Linked DNA regions of Homo sapiens. The protein of the gene in region 3 purifies or fractionates together with the protein of the main gene of each other region. This does not show direct contact. Each region holds a gene or a part of one and is shown on either strand. Other genes may lie near its edges. The genes, in order: COL18A1, VIPAS39 and PLOD3.

Region 1 (3,648 bases), on a different chromosome or scaffold from region 3:
AGGCGAGAGGCTCAGGCCCCGGACAGGGATGGGAGCAGGTGGCAGCCAGCGCTTCTTAAACTTTCAAACTTTTGGTAAAGTTTAGTAAAATACTTTTGTGAGCAGTTTTGGGTTTAAAGAAAAGTGAGCTCAAGCTTCTGAAAGTGGATGAACACATGGCGTGTGAGGGGCTCCTGGTGGGTCATGTCACAGTGAACGTTTACAAAGATAAATGTCACCTCACACACCCGATAATAAGACAAGGCGCCTGACGGGACGAGGCGGCAGGGGGGCTCAGGCCCTCCAGGGCCACGTGACGTCCACAGCACGGCCCCGGCTGGGGGGCAGGCTGTCCCGTGGCTCTGCACCCCGCGTTATAAACACCAAGGTGGGATGAAATGCATCCTCTCTGCTTAGCACGGGCCTTGCTCACCAGCCTGGCTCCTCAGACACACCTGGGATTGCCCCTTCCAGGACAGGCCAGCCCCTTTCCTGCTTTCCCAAAATGGTCTGGGTGGCAGGAGTGGCCGCTCTGATCCAGGTGGGTGCGGCCATGCTTGCAGGGCCCCGGGAAGGTTTACCTTCGTGTGGCAAAGGTGAGGACGGGTAGAAGCCCCATGCCGCCGAAACGGCCTGTGACATCCGTGGGAGCCTCCATGGCAGAACACTGCACACTGACACAGCCCTGACTCCTGGAGCCCTCCCACCTTCCAACACACCCACCTTCCTTCTAGAGCCCTCCCACCTTCCCTCTGGAACCCTCCCACCTTCCCTCTGGAGCCCTCCCACCTTCCCTCTAGCACTCCCTCCCTCTCGCCACCGGCCCCCTCCTAGGCCTGGCCAGCCCCTGCAGCACCCCAGACAGTGAATCCCACTCCAGTCCCTTCATCTGGCCAGGGAGAGGCTGCCAGTCTCATAGCAGATGCTGAGCTGGTGCCCACTGTGTGCCAGGTGTGCTTGTAGGCACCCGGATGCAGCCCCATCCTAACTTTCAGGGGCTTTGGTCCTGACAGGAGGAGGCAGGGGATGGCATCCTAGCAAACGCGTGCTGGGAGGGCTGGGTGCTGGGCAGGGAGGGCAACCTGCCGTGGACTGGGAGGGCTGGGTGCTGGGCAGGGAGGGCACCCTCCTGTGGGCTGGGAGGGCCGGGTGTTGGGGAGGGAGAGGCGGGTGCTGGGCAGGGAGGGCACCCTCCTGTGGGCTGGGAGGGCCGGGTGTTGGGGAGGGAGAGGTGGGTGCTGGGCAGGGAGGGCAACCTGCTGTGGACTGGGAGGGCCGGGTGCTGGGCAGGGAGGGCACCCTCCTGTGGGCTGGCAGGGCCGGGTGCTGGGCAGGGAGGGCACCCTGCTGTGGACTGGGAGGGCCGGGTGCTGGGCAGGGAGCGTACCCTGGCACAGGCTTGGAGGGGCAGGTGCTGGGCAGGGAGGGCACCCTCCTGTGGGCTGGGAGGGCCAGGTGCTGGGGCGGGAGAGTCGGGTGCTGGGCAGGGAGGGCACCCTGGCTCAGGCCCAGCCGCAGGTCCTGGGTGACCCTGCTGCTTTCTTCCAGCTGGAGGCCCGGACACCACTCCCACGAGGGACGGTAAGGAGCCTTTTTTCTGTTGAGACTGGTGGGTGGTCAGGACATGAGGGGGTATGTGCTGTCCCCTGTTTGAGGAACAACACGTGGTCCTTTGGAGTCCTGGAGCTGAACATGTGGCTCACCATCAGCCCCTGCTGCAGAAACTGGTGCAGGACACCCCACTACCTCTGTCTCAGCGCTGGCCCCCCAGTACCTCCGTCTCAGCTGCTGGCCTCACGAGGGAGCCCCTCTCATCCCTCAACTTTCCCAGTTGTGTCTGCCGCTCATTGCCCTCCTCAAGGTCAAAATCCTTGGGGCCAAAATCCACATCTTGTGTCTTTGCCTTCCCTCACCCAAAGTGCCAGACACAAGAATGGATATCTCTAAGAGTGGTGGGTGACTGGGTGGGTGAATCAATGGGGAGGTGGATGGATGGATGGGTGGATGGAGAGGTGGGTGAGTGGATACGTAGGTAGATGGGGAGGTGGATGGATGAGTAGATGGTGGACAGGTGGGTGAGTGGATGGATGGTGGTCAGGCGGGTGAGTGGACGGGTGGGTGGGTGGATGGAAAGGTGGGTGAGTGGATAGGTAGGTAGCTGGGGAGATGGATGGATGGTGGACAGGTGGGTGAGTGTATGAATGGGTGGGTGGATAGTGGGTAAGTGGGTGAGTGGATGGTGGACAGGTGGGTGAGTGGATGGGTAGGTAGATGGGGAGGTGGATGGGTGGTTGCTGGACAGGTGGGTGAGTGGATAGATGGGCAGATGGATGGTGGACAAGTGGGTGAGTGGATGGGTGGATGGATGGTGGGCAGATGGATGGTGGATAGGTAGATGAGTGGATGAATGGGTGGATGGATGGTGGGTAAGTGGGTGAGTGGATGGGTGGATGGACAGGTGGGTGAGTGGATGGGTGGGTGGATGGATGGTGGGTAAGTGGGTTAGTGGATGGGTGGGTGGATGGATGGGTAGAAATATTTTCGTTTTCCTAAGTGTTGCGTCCAGCTGCTGTCGGCCCCTCCTTGAGTAGAGGTCATGATTCCTTAATTGGCTCAGGAGTGAGGCCTGATGTGGAGCAGTGTCAGGGGCTCCACAGCGGCCTGTCTCCTCACAGGGTTCAGCCCAGTCTGCTCTCACTCATTTGCTGATTCATTCTTTCATTCAGCCAGTCAATAGTCATGGCCCCTCCTGTGTGCCGGGTGGCCATGGATATTGCCCTGGGTAACACACAGCCTGGCCCTGTGGAGCAGACAGTGGGGACAGCCATGTGGACAGGGTGCAGGTGGATGGCAATGGCAGCTGGGTCAGGAGGGGCTGAGGGCCGTGGGGAAAGGTGCAGAATCAATAGGGGCATCCGGACTGGGGTGCAGGCCTGGGGGCTGGGATTTCTAGGGTGGAGGTCACCTCTGAGGGAGACAGAGCAAGGCCCTGGGAGATTAGAAGGTCGAAGGTCGCCGTGTTGAGGTCAGGGGCCCTGAATTGGAGCCGCGGCAAAGGAGAGGGCAGGTCAGGGCACGTGGTGAGTGATTGCTGCGGCTTCTGAGCACGGCTGGGTCTGTGGGGCCTGAGCAGAGGTGACCCGCGATCCGGCGCCACGGCAGGCAGGACTCCCCACCCTTGCTGCTGCCTACACCCCCAGGGCAGCCCCAGAGTCGGGGGCGCAGCTCCCTGCTTGCCAGTTCAGAGCCCAGCCCCTCTCACCCAGCCCAGAGGAGGACACAGATGGAGGAGGGGCACCCGGAGGGTCCCCCCGCCGACAGGCCCCACGTCTCCCACCTGCAGGACAATGAAGTGGCCGCCTTGCAGCCCCCCGTGGTGCAGCTGCACGACAGCAACCCCTACCCGCGGCGGGAGCACCCCCACCCCACCGCGCGGCCCTGGCGGGCAGATGACATCCTGGCCAGCCCCCCTCGCCTGCCCGAGCCCCAGCCCTACCCCGGAGCCCCGCACCACAGCTCCTACGTGCACCTGCGGCCGGCGCGACCCACAAGCCCACCCGCCCACAGCCACCGCGACTTCCAGCCGGTGGTGAGTGCCCCCCCAAAGTGGGCTTGGCTCCATCTAGCCCCTCGGCTCTCGGCAGCAGAAGAGGGCCCAGCCCCTGCAGA
Region 2 (3,648 bases), on a different chromosome or scaffold from region 3:
AAGTCAGGTCTTGTGTCTCCCAGCACCGTGCTGTTTCTGTTAACCACACAGCCCTGCTTTGCCATAGCACTGTTACTCTATAACCTGACATGTGCCGACAGGCTGCTAAATGCAGTCACTGAGGAAGACTTGTAATGATCCTAAGATCCTGAGCAATTATTTCATCATTCTACACAAAACCACCAGGAGCGGGAGAGAAGGCACCAAGGAAGAAATACCTTTATTAGGAGTCTAGGCATGTCAGAAAAACCCAGTTCAGTCACAGAAAAGGAGGCAAATATTGGTACAGAGCAAGAATCCAAGTGTGAAAATAAAACCTCCATCTAAATATCCTAACAGAAATGCTGCTGAATTTAGCCCAGGTGAAACTTCTGAAAGCTCCTGGTGAAATGAGATTTTTGCATAAAGAGAGAGCTCTCCAGCACTGCTGCATCTGAGCTTCTTATAAAGTGACGGGTCTTGGCCAGCAGTAGAGGAAGAGATAAAGGGGATGTCTCATCACCCAAGCAAGGTCGTCTGTGTTCAAGTGAGAGAAGAACCTTAGGGTTTTGGACAGAGTAAACTGGGGCAGCAGAGGGAAAATGGCTGAGGAAACACAACGTCTAGGCCATGTGTGGCATAATGTGGAGGGGTCTGTGCAGTCTGGTGTGAGTGCATCTCCAGGAGGTCTTGGGAAACACTGGCATTCCTTCCTGAGGCCATTTTGGTTCTGTTCTGACTTCATTCAGAGCAGAACTGCCAATGTCCAGCGCCAAGTCCTGGATCATAATTAGCTGAGTGGAATGCAGTAGCCACCCTATGACTCCCATACCTCTTCCTTTCTGGAGCAGTCACTTTTCTCAGACCAAGTGAGATCTTACCCAGTAGGGGCCCAATCTAGAAATCACTCCCACCTTCATATGAGCACCAGGTGGAGAGAATCATTCTCATGACTCAAAGCTTTAGATCTCGATCCTCAGATGATGTTCCTTGGACAGAAGATCAGTCTGAAGTTATCTGTGTCAAGAGTAGCTGGCACTGCCCATGGGTAATGGGCCCAAGCGATGTGATGCCGCAGCTCTCCCAAAGAAGAGCTCTCTCTGCTTTCACAGGCAGGAGAGGAGGAAATGAGGCAGGCTTCAAGGTAGTCAATGCCACTTAATTCTTCCATCGAATTTGCTGTGGAAAGAGGAAACAATGAAAGTGTGTGATCAGTTTTCACTTATCCCTACAGCAAGGCAGAGAAAATGCAACAAAACAAGGCTCAGCTAGATAATGTAAGGAAAAGAAAAAGTAGAATCAGATCAGGAGGTGGGGGATGTTGAGAAATTTTTTAAAATATATGGGGGAGTTCATTTATTCAAAGATGCATTAAACACCTATTTTGTATTTTACAAGCCTAATTTTGGTCATTTGACCCTAAGGTAGGTTCCAAAATACCTAACAGGGAACTAACTTTCATATTAACAAAGAGCTCAGTAATTTCCTGCTGTGAGAGACGAACCAGCTGTGCTCCCCAGGTAGCTAACATCTATTTCACCCACTTCTTATTTTCAACTGGTAGGTCCCATCCATCCCCACGAGACCATACAGTTTGGATATTCTGAATCTGTAACATGTTTTCATACTTTCAATATTTAGTTTCTCCTACATGCTAGGTTTAACTATTATCACAGCATTACAGTTAAGTCTTAGCTTGAGGTCCCCAGATTACCCCCCTATCATACCGCATCTCAGGAGTAATTTCTGCTATTCAAAGCAGTGCTTTTGACATTGTGGCCAGAGGAGAGCCTTACATCCATGTGGCTTAGCCAACTGCAATCCTTCCAGACCTTGGGAACATACATTTGGTACTATTTTGTGAACTGTCTGTCTCCTGAGCCTGCTGGAGGGGTGAACTGTAGCTGCTCACCGAGCTGCTGAGAAGAGCATCAATCTTCTCCTCCTCTGCTGATCCTTTATCTACCTTACTCCTGTATGCTAGCAACTGTTGACGATCCTTCAGGTCCCGGTAGGTCTGTGCATCAAAACAAACAATACAAACCTCCAATCAGCCTCTGTACAGGGTTCTTTTTGCCCAGGATGGTCTCAAACTCCTGGGCTCAAGCAATCCTCTCTCCTTAGGCTCCTGAGTAGCTGGAACTACTGGTGTGTGCTACTGTGTACACATGAGGGCTTATTTCTTTTTGTCATTATCACTTTGACCCAACGCTCAAGGAGAGGCTAAGAGGCTATAGTGGGATAACAGTGGGGTCCAGTGCCCACAGAACTCCATGTTGGAGAGAAGACTACACAGCTTGTATAGCTTGATTTAGTTCTATGAATTCTCCAAGTACGACAAGTTTATAAAAACACAGAGAAAGCAGTCAGAGGGCTGGGAAAATAATACAGGAGTGCTGGTCTCCAAACAAACTCTTGCCAGATTATTCTGTCCATTCAGTCAAACCTGGTGGGAGCACCTCAGGATCTTGGACAGAGAATATTATAATCCCCACCCTGCTTCGCCACTGAGGATCTAACGGAGGACTCCCATTTCTTGGGGACTCACATCAATGACGACATCATGGCACTTGAACTTAGTGGCTAAGTTCAACTTCGTGTCCACATCTTCCACCAGATTGACATACTCCTGTAATATCTGTGGGAAGAGGTACTTCCGATTAATGATTCAAACACCCATAAGGCACAGAGCTCTACAAGGTAGAAAAGAAAGTCCTGAAGAAGGCAAAAGAGTTCAATAGCTAATGTTTCCAGTTTCCATCATCAACCACAGGACTAGTTCTGCAATGGGAATGAGGTAACGCTACACAGTACTTCCATGCTGCCTCAGTAAGCAGGAAAGAGCACACTTCTCCTGATCCTCGAGCCAGATACACATGCCAGCAATGAGTGCTCTAGCTGTGATCCAGTGCTCTGCTCATTTCTCCCTGATGTCTTTTCTCCACGAGTTCTCCTTTTCTATCATTTGAACAGTACATCAGTATTCCACTTGGGCTAACACAGTAGATGCTACTCAGAGAGGACAGTTTGGAATTGTTTCTAAAGGGGAGAAAGGGAGAGAATTTCACTCCCTGGCCTTTTCTGTCTTGAGGCCTATTGCAGCCATTGTGCTGCCTTTAAGGGAAAACAAGAGCAGATCGGGTCTCCCATCACTGACCAGTAAGAGGCTTAAAGTTAGGTCTCCAAGAATATCCTGTACCCAACTCTCTTCAGGACCCATTACCTGCACAGGGGCATTGTTCTTGTGCAAAATTTCGACAACCCGATGGAAGCCAATGGGTGCTCTCTTCTTGGTATAGCCCAGCCAGTTCTGAAAGAGGAAGATGGGGTAGCGGCAGGTAGGCCAGGCACACTCAACACATTCTAGGTTAGTCTATGTTTTACGATCAGACCAGAATAATGTGGTGGGTGAGTGGGGGTGCTGAGGGATACAGAAATAATGAGAAATGAATTTTTCAGAAAAATCAAGGGATTTGAGAGAGTGGAAATGAATCAGGTTTGAAATAACTTCTTAGATCTATAGAAACGAATGCAGGGAAAAGTCTTGAAATACTACTAAATGGGATAAGTAACTTACTTAATATTTGTAGTATGAACTTATCAATGTAGAAAATAATTCCATCTTCCATATCTTTGTAAGTACAGATGTTTATTTGCAAATTCATGAGG
Region 3 (3,648 bases):
ACTAAAATGCATGGAGCCCAAATGCTGCCGGGGCCGAAAGGGGTCTGCGTGGAGACTTCCTGTCCGGGACTGGGGTGGGGAAGGTGGGGAGGCAGCTGGCAGGTGGGCAGCGCACCTTGGTGTGGTAACCGGGAAACAGGCTCTCGGTCATGGGGCCCACATACGTCCGCAGCAGCTGCAGCCACTGGTCCTCGTACCCCACCTGCTTCATGTGGATGTCCACGGTGGGCACATTCTCGTAGCCTCCAGCCAGCCTTGAATCCTGGGGGCGGCGGGCACTGAGCCACCCGCCCCTCCAGCCATGGCGCTCCCCACCCCAGGGCAGTCCAGCCTCCTTCCTCCCGTCCTCCAGCCTTCACACCTGTGTTCCTCTGTGCAGAACAGTCTTCTTTGCTACTTCTCGGCCTGACTCACTGCTCCCGGCCCTTCAAGTCTCAGCTAAGATGTCACCTGTCCTGTGAAGCTCCCTACTCCTCCCAAGTCTGGGTCAAGGCTTCCCCGTGGCTTCTATTGCACCCAGGCTGCTCATCGCAGCCTTAGAAGCTGTGTGGTGGCTGCTGCTCACAGCAGGGCAGAGCTCGACCGGCATGAGGCATTCCTGCAGTGCAGTCTAGGACAGTGGCCCAGGAATGATTTCCTTTTCTCTTTTTTTAGAGACAGAGTCTTGCTCTGTCACCCAGGCTGGAGTACTGCGGCATGATCATAGCTCACTGCAGCCTCTAACTCTGGGGCTCAAGTGATCCTTCTGCCTCAGCCTCCTGAATAGCTGGGACATGCCACCATGCCCGGCTAATTTGTTGGTTTTTCTGAGATGGAGTTTCACTCTTGTTGCCCAGCCTGGAGTTCAATCTTGGCTCACTGCAACCTCTGCCTCCCGGGTTCAAGCAATTCTACCTCAGCTCCCGAGTAGCTGGGACTACAGGCGCCCGCCACCATGCCCGGCTAATTTTGTGTTTTTAGTAGAGATGGGGTTTCTCCATGTTGGTCAGGCTGGTCTCGAACTCCTGACCCCAGGTGATCCACCTGCCTCGGCCTCCCAAAGTGCTGGGATTACAGGCGTGAGCCACCGCACCTGGCCCAAACTCGGCTAATTTTTAAATTTTTTGTAGAGACAGGGTCTCGCTATGTTGCCCAGGCTGGCCTCAAACTCCCCCTGCTCGAGCAATCCTCCCGCCTCAGCCTCCCAAAGTGCTAGGATTACAGGCATGAGCCACTGTGCCCAGCAGTAAATATTTCTTGAATACATGAATGAATGCAGTTGTGACCCCAGGGTCTGCCTCCCCCCTGGGAACCCCTCTTTGCTCCCATTTTCCTGATTCCATTGTTTGTTTACCAGATCCTGCACCTCCTCCTCTGGGAAGGCCTCTGCCCTCCTCGCCCAGGCCCTTACCTCATGCCGGCCGCCTGACCACTGGCCGTAGTGCTCCATCTCTGCCACCAGCTCATCACACATTTGTTCTGACAGCAGTGGGAACCAGTACACGTCCGGGCATGGCTGAGGATGGGGCGAGGGAGAACAGGGCTAGCTGACGCCGCAGAACGGGGAAGGGGACAGGCAGCAGGCAGAATGGGAAGGGGCAGGGAGGAGCAGGGAAGGCTTTGTGAGAGCAGCCGGGGACCCGCCAGGTAGGGGCTGAGGGAGTGGCAAGGCTGAGGACCGGTTTCTGGCACAGGAGAGGTGGCAGAGGGTCCTGGAGCCCCTCGTGCTGGGACAGTGGTTTCCAAACTTCCGTAACAGTGCATACCTCTTTTTTTTTTTTTTGAGATAGGGTATTGCTCTGTCAACCAGGCTGGAGTGCAGTGGCACAATCATAGCTCACTACAGCCTCGACCTTCTGGGCTCAAGCGATCCTCCCGCCTCAGACTCCCAAGTAGCTGGAACTACAGGCACATGCCACCATGCCAAGCTAATTTTTTCTTTTCTTTTTTTTTTGAGACAGGGTCTCGCTGTGTCACCCAAGGTGGAGTGCAGTGGCGTGATCTTGGCTCACTGCAACCTCTGCCTCCCAGGTTCAAGCGATTCTCCCACCTCAGCCTCCCGAGTAGCTGGGACTACAGGTGCACGCCATCACACCTGACTAATTTTTGTGTTTTTTTTTTTTTTTTTTTTGGTAGAGACAGGATTTGCCATGTTGGCCAGGCTGGTCTCGAACTCCTGACCTCAGGTGATCTGCCTGCCTCGGCCTCTCAATGTACTGGGATTACAAGCATGAGCACCACTCCTGGCCTCATTTCTTATTTAATTTTTTTGTTGTTGTTGTAGAGACAGATTCTCGCTATGTTGCCCAGGCTGGTCTTGGACTTCTGGCCTCAACCGATCCACCCACCTTGGCCTCCCAAAGTGCTGGGATTACAGGCATGAGCCACTGAGCCCAGCCCCATTCTTCTTTTAAGATGTGATTTCAAGCATAACACCAGTATACCCAATATACAGGAGAAGAGGCTGTCTGATCAATGCTGGCTTTGGGGGCAAGAGTCCTTTCTGTTCGGCCTCTGCCTTCATCTTGTCTGAACAGAAAACCCTCAGATCTCTGGGGAACTCAGTGTGAAAACTTTGAATCCAGGCGGGGGCCCCCAAGAGGCGATGGCCATGAGGGCAGGGGGTGGGTGGGGAGGCTGCGTGGGCTCACCTGCTCCACGATTCCTTCCCCTTCCAGGGCCCGGCTGTAGTTCTCGTGGATGTACTGCTCCTTCCAGTCCTGTGAGAGGGTGGGGGGCACATCAGATCTGTGCCCCCCTCGCTCCCAGCCCCCAGGGGACCGCCCCCTCCCACTCAGTGTCCTGCGCTGGCAGCAGCCATCACGTTTGGTGTCTTCCTTAGCACAAGGCGGGGAACCTGTGTGCTCTGGGCGTGGGGTCCCCACTCACGACGGGGTTGTCGAAGATCTGCCAGAGGTCGGGGTGCAGGTGCTCCGTGTCGTATCTGGAAGTGGCCAGGAGCCGGCCAAATTCATGCTGATTGCTCAGATGGAGGAAGATGCCCTGTAGTGGGGTGGGGGTGTCCGTGATGCAGGCGATGCCTGGAGTCTGGGGGACTGCCCCCAGGCCAGACCGTGCACCCGCGCTCACCTTGTCTCGAAAGCTCTTACAGAAGGCCATGTCCGGGTCTGTGTCACTGCCCGAGAACACATCCCTCTGGGGCAGCTCCATCCGCAGGGTATCACCCCGGATCACATAGGCCTGGGAGATGTATGGTACATTCCACACACCCCTGGAGGCACCGACACCGCGGTCAGCTGGGAGGACAGCCCCCCAAATTCTGCCCAGCTCATCCCGGGAAGTCCTTCTTCCCTCAGGGTATCCCAGTCCCTGAACATAAGGCCCCTGCATGTCCCTTGTCAAGCACTGCTGGTCCCAACCACCCCACCTCCCAAAATGCGGTCAGTTCCTACCCCAAGCTGTGGCACTTCTTTTTTGTTTCTTGTTTTTGGTTTTTGAGACGGAGTCTTGCTCTGTCACCCAGGCTGGAATGCAGTGGTGTGATCTTGGCTCACTGCAACCTCCACCTCCCAGGTTCAAGCAATTCTCCCACCTTAGCCTCCCAAATAGCTGGGATTAGAGGTGCCAGCCACCATGCCCGGCTGATTTTTGTATTTTTGGTAGAGATGGGGTTTCACCATGTTGGCCAGGCTGGTCTCGAACTCCTGA

Evidence for each region.
Region 1: the proteins of PLOD3 (region 3) and COL18A1 purify together in Homo sapiens (co-immunoprecipitation; 2 studies listed by BioGRID and IntAct, with this or other methods). This does not show direct contact.
Region 2: the proteins of PLOD3 (region 3) and VIPAS39 purify together in Homo sapiens (co-immunoprecipitation; 2 studies listed by BioGRID and IntAct, with this or other methods). This does not show direct contact.

The regions. Positions count from the first base shown.
Region 1 is NC_000021.9:45,506,034-45,509,681, forward strand, and holds part of COL18A1 (collagen alpha-1(XVIII) chain isoform 4 preproprotein), read left to right. Parts: intron 1-1,527; coding exon 1,528-1,560; intron 1,561-3,322; coding exon 3,323-3,568; intron 3,569-3,648. UniProt on the Homo sapiens protein: Probably plays a major role in determining the retinal structure as well as in the closure of the neural tube.
Region 2 is NC_000014.9:77,426,479-77,430,126, forward strand, and holds the end of VIPAS39 (spermatogenesis-defective protein 39 homolog), read right to left. Parts: coding exon of another isoform or gene 3,641-3,648; exon of another isoform or gene 3,612-3,640; intron 3,290-3,611; coding exon 3,203-3,289; intron 2,618-3,202; coding exon 2,528-2,617; intron 1,997-2,527; coding exon 1,892-1,996; intron 1,159-1,891; coding exon 1,138-1,158; 3' UTR 197-1,137; downstream 1-196.
Region 3 is NC_000007.14:101,207,463-101,211,110, forward strand, and holds part of PLOD3 (multifunctional procollagen lysine hydroxylase and glycosyltransferase LH3 precursor), read right to left. Parts: intron 3,212-3,648; coding exon 3,070-3,211; intron 2,983-3,069; coding exon 2,869-2,982; intron 2,700-2,868; coding exon 2,631-2,699; intron 1,496-2,630; coding exon 1,391-1,495; intron 263-1,390; coding exon 116-262; intron 1-115. UniProt on the Homo sapiens protein: Multifunctional enzyme that catalyzes a series of essential post-translational modifications on Lys residues in procollagen. Plays a redundant role in catalyzing the formation of hydroxylysine residues in -Xaa-Lys-Gly- sequences in collagens.